Regions from separate parts of the Homo sapiens genome. Here regions 1, 2 and 4 are each reported to be linked to region 3. Evidence: microRNA targets listed by miRTarBase, many of them from high-throughput screens and not tested one by one. Region 3 holds a microRNA gene; each other region holds the end of a gene's coding sequence.

Region 1 (4,000 bases), not on the chromosome of region 3:
TCCTCCTCTCCCGGAGGACTTCCCAGACCAATATGAGGCCCTGCCACCCTCCCAGCCTGTCTCCCTGGCCAGCACACTGAGCCCAGACTGCAGGAGAAGGCCCCAGTTTCATCCTAGCCAGTATCTCCCTCCTCACCCATTCCCCAACGAAACGGATTTGGTGGGCCCGCCTGCCAGCTGTGAATTTAGTACTTTTGCTGTGAGCATGAACCAGGGCACAGAGCCCACAGGCCCAGCAGACAGCGTGTCTCTGTCCTTGCACAATTCCAGAGGCACCTCATCCTCGGATGTGTCTGCCAACTGCGGCTTTGACGATTCCGAAGTAGCCATGAGTGACTACGAGAGCGTGGGAGAGCTCAGCCTCGCCAGCCTTCACATTCCCTTTGTGGAGACTCAGCATCAGACTCAAGTGTAGACATCACATCTTGGGTACTTCACCCTGTTTGTTACAGAAAAGTGGAAGCAGATTGGCTGGGCTTCTGTCCCAGTGGAGCATTGTCTGTGGAATGAGAAGGGAATACTGTATTTTTCCACTAGAAACTTCTTCACAAGTCATACTGTCCCAACAAGCAAGCTTGATTCCAGTTGGGTGAAAATGAAAGGCTCAGAAATTGTTTTTGAGAGGTGACTGGTAATCCTTGATGTAGGTACCTATGTTCACAGCTAAAAATGCAAAGAGGGAAAAATTATTTCACCCACTAAGTTATACAGCCAGTCTTGTATGGCTTTGTGCAGTATTGTGCCCTGGAAAGTGTTACAGCATCAGTCCTTGCAGTATTAAAAACTGGCAACAATCAAAGAGGCATTGTTGCATGTAATTTTGAGCCAATGAAATGAAAATAGTAGTAATGATTGTTGGAAAAGTTAGTCTCTTAGGCGAAAGAGAAGAGAAACAAATATTATTAAACAAACCAGAAAATGGGCTGAAGCCTTTTAAATCAACTCTATTTTTTTGATAAGCTGCCCAATTTTCAGCTATAAAATTAGGCTTGAATAACATGTTTAGTATGCTCAGTTATTTCTGTTTGTTTGTGTTAAGCATCCAATCTAATATAGTTGGGTTTTATGATCTTCAAGAAAGGTATCAATGAAGAGCAACATGAGGCTTTTTGGGTTCCATTTGGTGGGTGGGGGAGGAAGTTAAAGTTGTTTGAACATTAGAAAGAATGTGATTATCTGGTTGGTTTTGTGTTTTCTGGTAAATATTCCAGTTGGTAAATCTAACATTGCTACAGAAGTTGGCTTTGTTCATATAGCTTCTCTACAATTAGATATTTTTAGAAGTTTAAGCAAAACTCACAAATTCAGGGGGGAAAAAAGAAAAAACGATACCTTCAAAGTTTGCGGCCTAGATAATCACAATTCTTCATAATGCAGAGGAAAGGTGTCTGTTATTCTAAATCGGTAGCATCACCATTATAAATACAATTATGTTAAGAAAAGAGGAAAGTAGACTAGTTATTGTGTATAAATTATAATAGTGTGTGTGTGTCTGGGCCTATGTACAAATATGTGCTTGCACTCAGTAAGGCTGCTCTTGAGGAAAGCTAATGTGAAGGTTTTGGGAAATGGACCATGTTGAAAATTCTGCCGGCGAGCATGGCATACCTTTCAATTTCTCTGATCTCTATGGTGTTAGAGAAACATCAAATGCCATATTTTACTCTGGTTCAGTTAACTTTATTTTGGTACTGCCAATAAAGCAAAATTGTGCTTTTTTTTTTTTTTCTCAAGACAGAGTCTTGCTCTGTCACCCAGGCTAGAGTGCAATGGCATGATCTCAGCTCACTGCAATCTCCACCTCCTGGGTTCAAGCGATTCTCCTGCCTCAGCCTCCCAGGTTGCTGGGGTTACAGGTGTGTGCCACCACGCCTGGCTAATTTTTTGTATTTTTAGTAGAGATGGGGTTTCACCATGTTGGCCAGGCTGGTCTCAAACTCCTGACCTCGTAATCCACCTGCCGTGGCCTCCCAAAGTGCTGGGATTACAGGCATGAGCCACCGTGCCCAGCCCAAAACTGTGCTTTTTAAAAACAGTATTTTGTTATAATTTTCCAGAACTTACCTCTGTTTTAAAAGTGTGTAATGTTTGATTACACCCTGGGATTCCCTTCTCATCTGTGGGCTTTGGCCATGATTTCCAAAATTAACAGGAGAATCATTCCACTGGAAATATAACAATCCAGTCCTCAAAACTGAAAGTTGACAGGTTGAGGGACTTTCCTTTTTTGCTTCAATCAGATTACGGCCGCCTGTGCAGTGGCCATGGTAAATATATGCATATTTGCACTATCTGCTTAATGAGCAAATCTGTGTCCACAGTTTCTGATGACATATGGCATTGGTGTGTAAATTGTACTGTCCCTAGTCTGTGCATTATTCACTCAGACATATTTTTAGTTATTTCAATTGCGTTTAATCCACTTCTTTTTTATGAGTCAGTGTTTCTGAATGTTTATGCAAAAAAAAAAATCCTTTTTCATTCCCAAACTTTCTAAGTAAGTGGATACACTACACTTCACAAGTTTTCCAGCCTTTCTCTTCCTGTCTCTTGGTCAGACCTACTCATGGAGGTATTATCCACACTGTGATCTTGAAATAAATGAATTTCACTAAGGCTGCTTTCGAGAACAAAGTCTTTGGTATTTTTCTTATGTAAGAAGCACATTTGCAAGAATCATGGAAAAAAATGACAAACTAATGGCCTAGAATAGAGTGACTGCTACACTTTAAGTAATGCAATGACATAAAAACCATCAAAGTAAAACCAACATGTCATTTCCTGCCCCCAGGAAATATTAGAATGAGATTAATGCTGATGAGTCCCTACTGCTTACACAGCATCTCTTTGAGGGAGAATGCCTGACTGACACAGTAATGAAAGAATAAATAGATCCTAATGCAGTCATGAAGCCACTGAAGAAAATTGTGCCCACCCTTTGCTGTGACCTATATAAAATATCTCTTTCTTTGGGATATCATCCCCTGATTTTCTGCAGAATAGCTCTGCAGCTAAATATATACCAGGCAAGCATGTATTGTGTTTTGATTTATTATCTTTAAACACATGATATCTCTTCACTTTTTGGAAAGTTAGATTTCTCTGTAGATTATGAAATGCTTTGCAGTCAGGCCAAGATGCTACTAGGTGGGGATGATCACTAATTCAAAAAAGCTGGAAGAATCCTATTTGCTAGTCCAAACTCCTTATTTTATCAAAGAGGAAACATACCCAGAGTGGGAAAGAGACTTGCCCAAGCCCACAGAGGAAGTTAATTCGCTTAACAAGGAGTAGAACCCATCCATCTAGCCAATATTCTTTTTACATCATATTGTTCACCCCTACACTGCCTTGAGCATGGGAGTCACCTGGTTCTGATGGACCCTCTGACTTCCACCATTCCTTCTTTGGAATATGCTATAAAAGAAAATTCATGGAGAATATTTTTCTGAAAGCCTCATGATCTTATGTTTCCTTGCAGTCCCCCTAGGGAGAGGGGTTATAGAATTCATACATTTCTGTAGACATTCATCGAAATGCTGCTTTTGCCAAATGAATGTTTGTATAATAGGGATGAAATGATAATTACAGAGTTCAGCTCAGACCAGTCATCAGTTGTAGTGAAACTTTGATTATACTGTTACCTACTGGTTGCATTTTTGGTTTTGGTTTTGCATTTTTTTCTTCCCACAAACACTGGCTACTCTTTGTCCTACCCCCTCCACCATGATGAACCATGTGGAAACTATTTAAATCAATTAATGTCTTTCTCATTTTTCGAACATGTATGTGCCACCTCCTGGAAGCCATTTCCCATAATCTGTTGTAGGCACTTTACTAGTATTGCACACATTCTGGTTAGGTTGAGAATAGCTAGACTCTTGGTGCTCGTCATATAGTAAGCAAGAACTTGGGAGTAATAAAAGGTGAATAAAATGCATGCTTCATTTATTCCCTTTCCTCTATGAATATTTTGCTGCTGCATTCTAGTCTATGCCAG
Region 2 (4,000 bases), not on the chromosome of region 3:
GGAGGGACCTGACCTGTCCCCCCACGGTGAGAATCCCGTGCTGGGTCCAGACCCTTCCGTTTGCGGGCAGGGGCTGCGGCCCGGGAAATGAGATTTTGCCTGCCCAAGGCTGCACTGTGGTGGCAGGCTCCACAGACTGCTGGCGTTTCCTGCACAGCAGGTGTTGGCAGTGCTGCTGCCCCCTCAGTGCTACCCTGGTTCTTAGCGCTGACTGCGAAAGTGAAATGCCATCTCATCCAAACAGGTAATTTATGGACTCGCCTAGGATCTGCACCCAAGACCAAAGAAAAGAATACGAAGAAAGTGGATCACAGGGCGCCTGGCGCTGAGGAAGACGACTCTGAGCTGCAAAGGGCATGGGGGGCTCTGATTAAGGAGAAAGAGCAGTCTCGCCAAAAGAAGAGCCGGTTAGATAACTTACCATCTCTCCAGATTGAAGTTAGTCGGGAAAGCAGCTCTGGTTCAGAGGCAGAGTCCTGATGCCCCTGGGGCCTATGGCAGCTGCCCTAAAGCCTGACATTCTTGCACAGGGTGGGGCGCGCAGTAGGAACCTCCCCCGCAGGAGCTGGCGCCCTCTCGCTCCTGCTCACACAGTCACCCTCCGCTCTTGCTACTTCGGCAAGACATCTTAAGAATGTGACACATTTTCAAGGGCATCTCTATCTTTCGCTGCAGAGTTGTAGTTCTGGGCCCTCGATTCCTTTCCCACCACCCCACAGGCTTTACCCTTTGAGAAAAAGGCAGCCCTCCAGATTTTGTAGACATTTTTCTTAATATTTTTAACATTGTGTCTTTTAAAAGAAATGTTTTACACAGTTCATCCAAAGAGCAGAGAACTGAACTTCTCACTATTGCCTTGGCCCTGACAGCTGTTACCAGCACCCTTTTCCCAAGAAAAGTCAATTCCCAGGTGCTTATTGGACATCCTTCGAGGGGGAAGAGGAGGGAAGCGGCCAGCTCACCCTTCCGGGACCCTAGTGTGGGGCGAATCTCACGGACCTGACCTCAGAGGTGCACCAGTGCCGCCCAGGTAGATAAGAGCTGCAGCATTGACTGTGCTTCCGTTCTTCCCTCGGGGATTGCTCATGGCATGGGCCTCTTACGTGCTGTCAGCTTGATGTGAAGATCAAGTTCAGTGCTGTGGGATTTTTAGGAACAAAAAACTGTGACGTCTGGATTTGGGGTTGATTTTTGTGCTGGGGTGGGATTATGGGTCAATGTTGAAGAATTTTTAAGTCTGTATTATGTTTAAAACATGAATGATTTGAAAGTTTAAATTTTTAATTTTTATATGTGGAAATTCTTCCTGTTGGCTAAAGGGGAAGCTCAAGTGGTGTCGTCTTTTGTGCTGTTAAATATATATTCTATTCTTTGGAAGAAGGCAGAGAGAGGAGTCTTATTATTTTTAAATGCTCCTAGTTGTATAGTCTGTCTGTTGTACATAGAGTTCAGCTTGTTTTTTGGCTCCAGTAGGAAAAAAAATCCATCCATCTGAGATGGGGTCCTGTTGTTTATTATCACTCTAGAAGTTATACATTGATATTTATTCTTTCTGTCCCCACGTTGTGGCACCTGAAGACATCTTCAAAATTGGCAGAAAAGATAATAGTTATAAAAATTTTAGTTCATTTATTTTTAAACTCCTTTCAGATTATTTTACCATTAGGAGGAGGTAGATTGTTTCGTCTTCCTGTCTGATTTTTGTTTTGTAGTATTTAATTTTGTATTCCTCTGCAGTTTTAAGAAACAGTGTTTTTCTTCGGTTTGCTGGAACATGGGCGTTAGAGATGGTAATAAACCGTGGTCCTTTTTGCGATGTCACGACTCTTCACCTGCCTGGGCTGTTGTGCACACAGTGCAGCCTGGATCCTGTCGATCTTTACTTGTGGCGGAGCTAATGGTCACATTGATAGTTGATTACACTGTGGCACGAATTAATGCAGAACACTGTTATTAATAAAGGAAGTAAAGGGCTGCAAGATTTGAGAGCTGCAACAAAAACTGTATTGTCCCATATTTTGTTGATTAACCTTGCTTTTTCTCCCTCCCTTTAGAGAGATTAGAGGATATAACCATGATATATTTCAGCTTCTTATTAGGATTCTAGGAAAGAGATGGTTCTGGTTTCTCTGCCAGTTGAGACTTAAGACATCTGAGATTTCTCAGCTTTTCTTTCCCTGTGAAGCATACAGCTGAGAGCCAGGTTCTTAGGAAGGGTCAGGGTTTGGGGAGTTGGTAGAGTGAGGAGTGCGGGGGCCTGAGAATCGGACACCTGGATGCCAACCCCTGGCTCTGCTCCATGGACCTGGGCCTCAGTTTTCCCGTCTAGCAGTTGAGTGGGCTGTTACCAGAATTCCTGGCTTTGTTGGTGCATCTCAGTGGCGGTTTACTCTTCCCAAGCTGTGACGGCAGTGGGCTCGCCAGCATGAATTTCTACTGCAGGTGGAGGAGGCGCCAGGGAGACAACTGAGGGCGCGCATGAGGTGTAGACAGGGGCTTATTCCCATCCCAGCACAGTCTCTGCTTCTACTGACGGGGCAAAGATGTCTTGTGGTCAGCGTCCCAGCTGGCATGCCTCTGCAGGGTTTAGAATATGCTCCTTCACAGACTTTCCTTTTGGTTTTACACCAGCAGCTCAGGTCCATTTGTTCCACGGCCTTTCAGCACTCAGCAGTCTCCTGCTACAGATCAGCGAAGCCATTCTGGAAGGAGGTGGTGTGCAGTCAAAACTGGGTCTTTGATGTAACCAAGAGAAATACACACTCGAGTAACCTTACAGTTTTCACAGACACACAGAGAGAACCCAGAAAGGCAGCTTTAAAGATTTTTACTTCTCGGAGTTACTGGCCTTATTAGTTTCTCTAACCCTCCTGCCCACTCTCAGTCACTCAGATCTTGCAACATCTTGAGTGTGTCCTGAATGATGAGGCCTTTTCTTTGGAGTTTAAGAGTAAGAATGGATAGTCAGGACAGGCCCGTGGCAGGCAGCTGGGCGTGATTTTACCCTGGACACTCCCCACACATGTGGGCACAGGGCTGCACACTTTGTGTGTTCCTCTTAGTCTTATGTGTAGGAGATTTTACATACATGTTTGCTGCTTGATGATAATTGCAGATACCTCATTTGTTTCCCACTCTCCTCTCTGGAGAGTTACCAGGTACCCAGGATAATTTGTGGCGTCCTCAGGATGTAGTCTCCTCCTCTGGCCCCCTTGTAGTCTGATCCTGTGAACCCCTCTCCGTTCTTCAGCCACTGCCCTTTCCAGCTGCATTTGTACAGCAGCCTCTTCACTGGTCTCTGCCCTGTCTCCATTCTGCACACTGCAGCGGGATGAACCTTTGTTGTTGTTACCAGCTTAATTTAGATGTAATTTGCATACAGTTCAGCCATTTAAAGTGTACACTTGAGTGGCTTTTAGTATATTTACAGTTATGCACCAGCACCGTAATCAATTTTAAAACACTTTGATCACCCAAAGAAACCCTGAGTCCATTAGCAATTCTCCCTATTCCCTCTTCCCTCTTAGCCTCTGGCCACCACTGATCTTCCTTCTCTCTCTGTGGATTTGCCTGTTCTGGATAGTTCATATAAATGGGATCATATACTATGTGTCTATTTGTGACTGGCTTCTTAACATATTTCTGAGGTTCATCCATGTCATAGCTTCTATCAGTATTTCATTTTTTAAAATTGCCAAATAATAGTCCATTTTATGGGTATGCCACCTTTTTTTTAATCCACATTGGTTAATGGGCATTTGAGTTGTTTCTACTTTAGGGCTATATATATATATTTCTATTTCTATTATTTATTTTTGAGACACAGTTTCGCTCTTGTTGTGCAGGCTGGAGTGCAATGGCACGATCTCGGCCCACTGCAACCTCCACCTCCGGGGTTCAAGCGATTCTCCTGCCTCAGCCTCCAGAGTAGCTGGGATTACAGGCATGTGCCACCACGCTGGCTAATTTTTTGTATTTTTAGTAGAGACAGGGTTTCACC
Region 3 (4,452 bases):
GATTTGGCCTGTAGGATAATTGAATCTATGGTAAGGGGCATTGTTTTATCAAGAAGTAATTTTAGCCAGTTCCTGTTATGATCTTAAACTGGGGAAATACAAAACAATAAGATAAGGCTTATTGAACATTTACTCTGTTGGATCCTGAAGCTTCATTCAGATTATCATTTGCATCCCTTAAAACAACAACATCAACTACAGCTCTTATTTTCATTTTGCCAATGTAGAAACTGAGGCTCAGAGAGATTAAAAACCTTCTCCAAAAGTCACAGTAAGTAAAGGAGAATCAGGAGTTGAACTCAGGAAATCTAATTCCAGTTTCCACACACTTAACCATTATAGCTTATTCCTTTCCTCTTACCAAATAAGTGGAACCCTGCCAGGCTCTTACAATCTAGTTCTAGAATCACTGAGTGTTACTGGCAGGGACCTTTAAAAGTATCTAATCTAATGGTCTTTTTAAAAACAATGAAACTGAGAACCTGCAAAGGCATGTGACTAGCCTCGATGAGAAAGTGGCCCAACTGGGGCTTGAGCCCAGGTCTCCCGCCCTCCATGCTGGTGTGCCTTGGTAGGAGTGTGGACCTGAACTACAACAGGTCATTCACCCAGGCCCCCAGCTCTCCATCCCACAAATGGGCAGGGAAAGGCAGGGAGGTATAAAACACCGGCTTCCTACCTTCTGCTTCGATCCACAGAGAAGACTTAGGCCAGAGTGGCCCTGCACGTCCGCCTTTCCCCTCTCAGGGAGTCCCTCTTTCTGGGTTTGAGTCTTGCCAGTCCGAAACACGTGCGAATAGAATCCCAAAAGCACAGGGCCCAGGCTTTTTTCTGGGCGATGTGCTGTTTTTTTTTTTATATCTCAGACTATGGCTGTTACTGTCCATGGGCTCAACTAATGCAGAGAATTGTAGGACATCTAGCCCTGCTCCTAAAGGAGGCAAAATGATCCTTATCATGCCTGTTATAGCCAAGGAAGGCTGGACCCAATTCCACAGAACTCGAGATGGCGCTTTTCATTTCAAAGAAAAGACACTATGAGCCTTTCTCATATTTCACAGCATGCTGTGTGTTGCACTTGACCTCTACTCTTGCCCTCAGCTTCCCCAGGTGGCCTCGCCTCCCTGCTGCAGCCCCAAAGCAGTAAAGCTACAGCTCTGGGCCATGGGCTGTGGCTTCAGTGATCTAGGACCTGATTCTCCTAAAAACCACAAATGGATAGTTCTTCCAAAGACCCAGGGTCCTCATAGAACTCTCTAGAAACAGTAATGATCTCCTTGGAGCTCAAACAGTCCCTGAGCTATCAGACCCTGCCAACACCAGGGCTTAATGCTCAGGGAACACATTTTATGAGAGCAACTGTCACTCCTGAGCTTCTGTGGGTCACTTGAAATCACCCAGTTATTTTTCACTCAGCTGAGGGGCAGTATAGTTCTGACGGGTGGCTTTGGGTTCACTGCCTTCAACTCCAGTCAGAAAACGTTAGTGCTGAAATGGATCCGGGGTACAAATAGTTGGGTTGTTGACATGCTTTCTTCTGTTGTATACATAAAGGTTCCACATACAAAAACCTATTTGCAAAGAGAGGTCAGATGCTTAAATGTGAATAATAAAAATGCTTATCCATGGGTACTCTAGTTTAATCTCCTCATTACAAGAGGAATCTGAGGCCCAGAGAGAGAAAGTGACTTGTCCAAAATCATACAACTAATATTGCAGCCAGCAATAGAACAAAGAGAGCTCAGGAATTCTGGGTCCCAGTGACTATGGAAAACAATTGTCTGAAATTTTACCACTAGAAATTGCTACTCCCTGCCCCATACTACCTGAGTCTTATTTAGGTAAACAGATAGTAAATATAAACATTATCATTGTAAAAAAATGTTTTAAAGACCAAATATATTTATAAAGTTTTTTAAAGTGATCTTTTGTACCCCTTTGTACTCTACCCAATCCCATTCATTTCCCGAAGGATGTCCGATGTTAACAAATGAGTGTCAAGTCCTTCTAGGCCTTTTTCTATGCACTTAGGAATGTGTTTACAATATATGACTGGGTTTTAAAAATACATACTTATATACTATATGTATGTAGATATAAGTATAAATTTATAAGCCATATTTATATATTATGCCATTTATAAATATAAAATCAAATTGTTCTGTTTTGAGACTTCCTTTGTTCACCTAACCTTGTGTCTTGGCACTTTTTCTCTCTCTTTTTTTTTTCTTTTTGAGATTTTGCTCTTGTTGCCCAGGCTGGAGTGCAATGGCACAATCTCAGCTCACTGCAACCTCCACCTCCCAGATTCAAGCGATTCTCCTGCCTCAGACTCCTGAGTAGCTGGGATTACAGGTGCCTGCCTCCATGCCCACCTAATTTTTGTATTTTTAGTAGAGACAGGGTTTCGCCATGTTGGCCAGGCTAGTCTCAAACTCCTGACCTCAGGTGATATAACCATCTTGGCCTCCCAAAGTGCTGGGATTACAGGTGTGAGCCACCGTGCCCATCCATGGCACTCTTTCCATGTTGGTCAATAGAATCTTGATGTTTTGTCGATGGCTTCATGGTATTCCATTGTATGGATGTACCACAATTTCTATTTAGCCAATTGTCTATCTTTAGGCATTCAGAATAGCTAAAGATGGACAATTGGCTAAATAGACACTGTGGTACACAATGGCTTTTTCTGTTGCAGCCATGGTTGCAGTAAACTTCCTTGTATATAAATCTCTGGGACATGAGCCAATGTTTCTTCAGAAGAGATACCTAGAAGTGAAGATGTGAGATCATTTGTCTACAGAAGGTTTCACTTTAAGTTGTAATGACTCGCCTTAATGTTGTCCAAAGGTTGTTTTTCTAAACCTTATTTGAGGGCCCACAACAGCCATAAACTTTTACTTATGTTTCACCTAGAATCATCACAGCAATCCTGTGAAAGCAAAGTATGATCCCTATTTTTCAAAAAAACTCACTGAAGTAGGAACAGACGAAAAATATCTCAATTTGTGAAAAAGCATTTACAAAAAAAAAAAAACATCTAACATCATACTTAATGGTGCCAACTGAACGTCTTCCCACTGAGATTGGGAATAAGACAAAGATGTCTGCTTTCAACATCTTCTTCAACAGGGTAGTAGAAGTTCTAGCCAGTGCAATATAGCAAGAAAAAGAAATACAAGACATACAGATTGAAAAGAAAGAAATAAAATCATCTCTATTTGCAGATAACATGATTGTCTATTTATACAATCCTAAAGAATCTAAAAAACATAAACTAAAATAAACCTCCTAGAATTAATAAGTGAATTAAGTAAGGTCACAGAATACATGATCAACACTCAAAAATCAAATGCATTTGTTTATCCTGTCAATGAACATGGGGAAACTGAAATTAAAAACAATACCATTTACAATCACTTCAAAGAAAATAAAATACTTAGGTATAAATACATATACTATGTCTCTGATGAAAATTACAAAATGCTGATGAAAAAATAAAGACCTACATAAATGAGGAGAAATACCATGTTCATAGACTGGAAGACTCATCATAGTGGAGATGTCAATTCTTCCCAAATTATCAATAGTTTAACACAATTCTTATCAAAATCCCAAAAAGATTTTGTAGACAAAGCCAAGCTTATTCTAAAATTTGTATGGGAGGCAAAAATTTTGAAAATAAAATAGCTGTGATAACTATTTTAAAAAGTAGGAGGAAGCACTCTACCTTGTGTTAAGTCTCACTATATAGCTACAGTTGCCAAGGTAGTATGATATTGGTGGAGAGATAAACCCACAAATCAATGAAACAGAATAGAGGACTCAGAAATAGACCCACAAAAATATACTCAACTGATTTTTTACCAAAAATACCAAAAGTGCAAAAGCGAGTGAATGAAGGAAGGAAACTCTTTTCAACAAGTGGTGTTGGAGCAAAAAACAAAACAAAACAAAATCTCTTGTTTTAACTTAAGTCTCATACTTTAAAACTTTATACAAAAATTAACATAGATCACAGACTTAGATGTAAACATAAAACTTCAACACTTTTAGAGAAAAATATGGGAGAAAATCTTTAGCACTTAGAGCTAAGTTAAGGAGGTCTTAGACTTAAAATCAAAAGCACAATTTATAAAAGAAAAAATTGAGGCATCTTGATACTTCATCAAAATTAAAAATGTTTGCTCTGAAAAACACCCTATTAAGAGAATGAAAAGGCTGGGCACAGTGGCTCACACCTGTAATCCCAGCATTTTGGGAGGATCACGAGAGGTCGGGAGTTCGAGACCAGCCTGACCAACATGGAGAAACCCCGTCTCTACGAAAATACAAAAAATTAGACAGGCTTGGTGGCAGATGCCTGTAATCCCAGCTACTCGGGAGGCTGAGGCAGGAGAATTGCCTGAACCCAGGAGGTGGAGGTTGCGGTGAGCCAAGATGCGCCATTGC
Region 4 (4,000 bases), not on the chromosome of region 3:
AAAAAGTGTACGGGCTGGGCACAGTGGCTCACACCTGTAGTCCCAGCACTGAGGCAGGACGATCCCTTGAGGCCTGCAGTTTGAGATCAGCCTGGCAACAAAATGAGGACCTGTCTCTACAAAAAAAAAAAATAGCCAAACATGGTGGTGTGCATCTGTAGCCCTAGCTACTGGGGAGTCTGAGGCAGAAAGATCACTCTAGTCCAGAAGTTCAATGTTATGGTGAACTGTGAACGCACCACTGCACTCCAGCCTGAGCAACACAGCAAGACCCTCCAAAAAAAGTGTAGTTATCGTAACATCACCTTGAAACAACTTTGTTACTGGGATACATTTAATTAAGCAACTACCATGAATGTAGTCGGTACCTTGCCTTACGTGCTTCAGTATATATGTTGTTCTTGTTTTATGTACAGGCTAAATTTGTAGATTGAATAGCAGAATATTAGTTCTGTTCTTATAGGGCCTACTGCTGTATTCAGAGTTATGAGCTACGTTTCTTCTGCGTTTGCTGCACCATGAAATCCTAAGCAAGACCTAAACCCTTGTTCGCTTTTTCGTAGAGCAGAGAGGAGCCTTCAGGGGAAGTAGAGGTGGCCGAGGTTGGGGCACACGAGGAAATCGTAGTCGGGGAAGACTCTACTGAATAAGACATCAGCATTCTTCAGCATTGTCATGAGCTTAATATACTTAAATTCTACTACTCATTGGATTGCCGGGGATGTCCCTTTAAACAGACTGCTGCCTTCAGCTAAAAACTTAATGTTCTTTATACCTTTGTATGTATGACCTACTTTTGTAACAGACCATGGTTGTGTCCAAGGTAAAACCACAGTGATATTTTTGGATGCTTTGTCTGCAATCTTGACTTGTTTTTGCAGTATCATTATTCAGACTTCAAATTGTGAATCTTTTAAACATCTTGATAATTTGTTGTTGAGAGCTGTTCATTCTAAAATGTAATGAAATTCAGTCTAGTTCTGCTGATAAAGATCATCAGTTTTGAAAGGTTACTGATTTTCCTCTTCCCTCTTAGTTTTTTACCCAATATATGGAGAAGAGTAATGGTCAATCTTAACATTTTGTTTTAATTGTTTAATAAAGCTGCTGGGCAGTGGTGCAGCATTCCTACCTAGTGTCATAAAAGCAAAATACTTACATAGCTTTCTTAAAATATAGGAATGACATTACATTTTTAGGAGAAAGTAAGTTGCTTTGCACCGCCTACTTAATTCTTTTCCATATATTGTGATACAAACTTTTGAATATGGAATCTTACTATTTGAATAGAAATGTGTATGTATAATATACATACATACATAAGCATATATGTGTGTGTGTGTGTGTATATATATATATATGCATGCTGTGAAACTTGACTACACAACATAAATCACTTTTTAAATTCCAGGAACGGGTAGTCTGACACGGTGATTATCCTTTTGAGGCTGAATCCGTTATTAACTTGTTATTTAGGTTTTTACTCCCAGTAGCAAGGGATTCTAAGTTAGTTGCACTTACATGATTATTGTTATTTAAAACTAAGAATAAAGGCTGCATTTTCAAAGATAAATTGGAATTGCTGTTGGTGAAATAACAACCAAAATACTGAATCTGATGTACATACAGGTTTCTACAGGAAGAGATGGTATAATTTACAATTTGGAGATTTAATAACCAGGGCTACCCAGAAAAAGTGACTTGATAACATGGTACCAATAAGTAAGGGATGCTCTCTCGGTTTGCTTTTGCCACTTTCAAGATTTTAACTTCTCAGGTTATTAATCAAAATTATTGTATAAGTTAGCCAATAGAATTTTTAGGTTAAAACAACAGATGGGGGGTTTGTGGAGTGTTTAATGTCATGGGCATTTTTAGTAGGATAGACCCTTTGTTCTGCATTTGAATGTTTCGTATATTTTTGTTTCACAGTTAATCTTCCCTCCCCAAGTTTGCTATTCAAATCAACTGCCTGAATGACATTTCTAGTAGTCTGATGTATTTTTCTGAGGAATAGTTTGTGATTCCAATGCAGGTGTCTTCATTACCATTACCTCTACACTGCAGAAGAAGCAAAACTCCTTTATTAGAATTACTGCACATGTGTATGGGGAAAATAGTTCTGAAAGGCTAGAATGATACAAGTGAGCAAAAGTTGGTCAGCTTGGCTATGGAGTGGTGGCAATAATCTCTAAACATTCCAAAAGACCATGAGCTGAACCTAAACTCCCTTGGAATCTGAACAAAGGAATATAAAATTGCCATTTGAAAACTGACCAGCTAATCTGGACCTCAGAGATAGATCAGCCAGTGGCCCAAAGCCATTTCAAGTACAGAAATTATAGAGACTACAGCTAAATAAATTTGAACATTAAATATAATTTTACCACTTTTTGTCTTTATAAGCATATTTGTAAACTCAGAACTGAGCAGAAGTGACTTTACTTTCTCAAGTTTGATACTGAGTTGACTGTTCCCTTATCCCTCACCCTTCCCCTTCCCTTTCCTAAGGCAATAGTGCACAACTTAGGTTATTTTTGCTTCCGAATTTGAATGAAAAACTTAATGCCATGGATTTTTTTCTTTTGCAAGACACCTGTTTATCATCTTGTTTAAATGTAAATGTCCCCTTATGCTTTTGAAATAAATTTCCTTTTGTAATTTTGTTTTGTGTCTTGATGTGTTATAATTATGGTAACTTCAGATTCTTGGATAGTTATTAACATTTATTGATTGCTTCTACTGTGCCAATAGGCTGAAAATATAAAGATGGACAAGAACTGCTCTCTGCCTTCAAGGAGTTCAGTCTTTTTTTTTTTTTTTTTTTTTTTTGAGACGGAGTCTCGCCCTGTCTCCCAGGCTGGAGTGCAGTGGTACAATCTCGGCTCACTGCAAGCTCCGCCTCCCAGGTTCATGCCATTCTCCTGCCTCAGTCTCCTGAGTAGCTGGGACTACAGGCGCCCGCCACCACGCCCAGCTAATTTTTTGTATTTTTAGTAGAGACAGGATTTCACCGTGTTAGCCAGGATGGTCTCAATCTCCTGACCACGTGATCCACCCGCCTTGGCCTCCCAAAGTGCTGGGATTATAGGCGTGAGCCACCGCCCCCGGCCCATGAGGAGTTCAGTGTTGATATAATTTTGTAAATCATCTTTAATTTTGATCCTTGAAAGTTTTTATTTGAATTTATTTTTAGGAGCTAATCTGAAAAAAAGGATTTGGTTTTTTTTTATTAAAGCAAAACATCAGATAATTGCCAAATCATCATTAAGTAAATCATTTCTATCTTCAGATAATGTGCAAAGCAAGTTGGAACTTAGTAATTTAACTGCCAGCCTTTATGAAAATATTCCTGAAGTAGCACTAAGGTTGGTTGTGAGTGTTTGAAAGCTGGGGTTTAAGTGGATCAGGATAAGATAACTAAATTCCCTTGGTGATCACATCTAGGCCTATAGCGTTTTTTTTGTTTGTTTGTTTTGTTTTTGAGACAGAGTTTCGCTCTTGTTGCCCAGGCTGGAGTGCAGTGGTGTGATCTTGGCTCACCGCAACCTCTGCCTCCCAGGTTCAAGCGATTCTCCTGCCTCAACCTCCCGAGTAGCTGGGATTATAAGTGTCCGCCACCACGCCCAGCTAATTTTTTGTATTTTTAGTAGAGACGGGGCTTCACCATGTTGGCGAGGCTGGTCTCGAACTCCAGACCTCAGGTGATCCACCAGCCTCGGCCTCCCGAAGTGCTGGGATTACAGGCATAAGCCACCATTCCCGGCCTTCCAGGCCTATGGCTTTAAATACTATCTATATGCTAAGGAATGCCAAATTTCTTTCCCCATTATTTCTTGCCTAGAGTTTCGTAATAACCTCCTAATTGATCTCCCTGCCGTTACACCTAACTCTACAATCTGCTTGAAACCCAGCAGCAAAGAGACATCTACTTTTCTGCCAGAAATTGTTCACTGGCTCCCCGTTTCAGAATAGTAACCAAAAACATTACCATGGCTTT

The links. Region 3 holds the annotated microRNA hsa-miR-4662a-5p (UUAGCCAAUUGUCCAUCUUUAG, at 2,639-2,660, opposite strand). A microRNA usually pairs through its seed, bases 2 to 8, with sites in the 3' UTR of a target mRNA and lowers its output. Matches are read on the target gene's strand: a 7mer-m8 pairs with bases 2 to 8, a 7mer-A1 pairs with bases 2 to 7 and ends in A, and an 8mer does both.
Region 1: miRTarBase lists FAT3 as a target of hsa-miR-4662a-5p. Seed matches in the 3' UTR shown: 7mer-A1 at 1,874-1,880.
Region 2: the mRNA of NCBP3 is a reported target of hsa-miR-4662a-5p. Seed matches in the 3' UTR shown: 8mer at 1,310-1,317 and 7mer-A1 at 3,960-3,966.
Region 4: miRTarBase lists API5 as a target of hsa-miR-4662a-5p. Seed matches in the 3' UTR shown: 7mer-m8 at 2,165-2,171.

The regions. Positions count from the first base shown.
Region 1 is chr11:92,890,699-92,894,698 of GRCh38, forward strand. It overlaps FAT3 (FAT atypical cadherin 3), which reads left to right. Exons shown (of 28, transcript NM_001367949.2): 28 at 1-4,000. The coding sequence ends at 415. Among named protein-coding and RNA genes, the nearest start is that of LINC02746, 23 kb to the right of the region's middle.
Region 2 is chr17:3,809,524-3,813,523 of GRCh38, reverse strand. NCBP3 (nuclear cap binding subunit 3) reads left to right here. Exons shown (of 13, transcript NM_001114118.3): 13 at 245-4,000. The coding sequence ends at 480. Among named protein-coding and RNA genes, the nearest start is that of ITGAE, 10 kb to the right of the region's middle. RefSeq lists an enhancer at 129-634.
Region 3 is chr8:124,820,198-124,824,649 of GRCh38, reverse strand. MIR4662A (microRNA 4662a) reads right to left here and starts at 2,665; the gene lies at 2,599-2,665. It overlaps MIR4662B (microRNA 4662b), which reads left to right and starts at 2,592; the gene lies at 2,592-2,672.
Region 4 is chr11:43,341,865-43,345,864 of GRCh38, forward strand. API5 (apoptosis inhibitor 5) reads left to right here. Exons shown (of 14, transcript NM_001142930.2): 14 at 564-2,665. The coding sequence ends at 646. Among named protein-coding and RNA genes, the nearest start is that of TTC17, 15 kb to the right of the region's middle.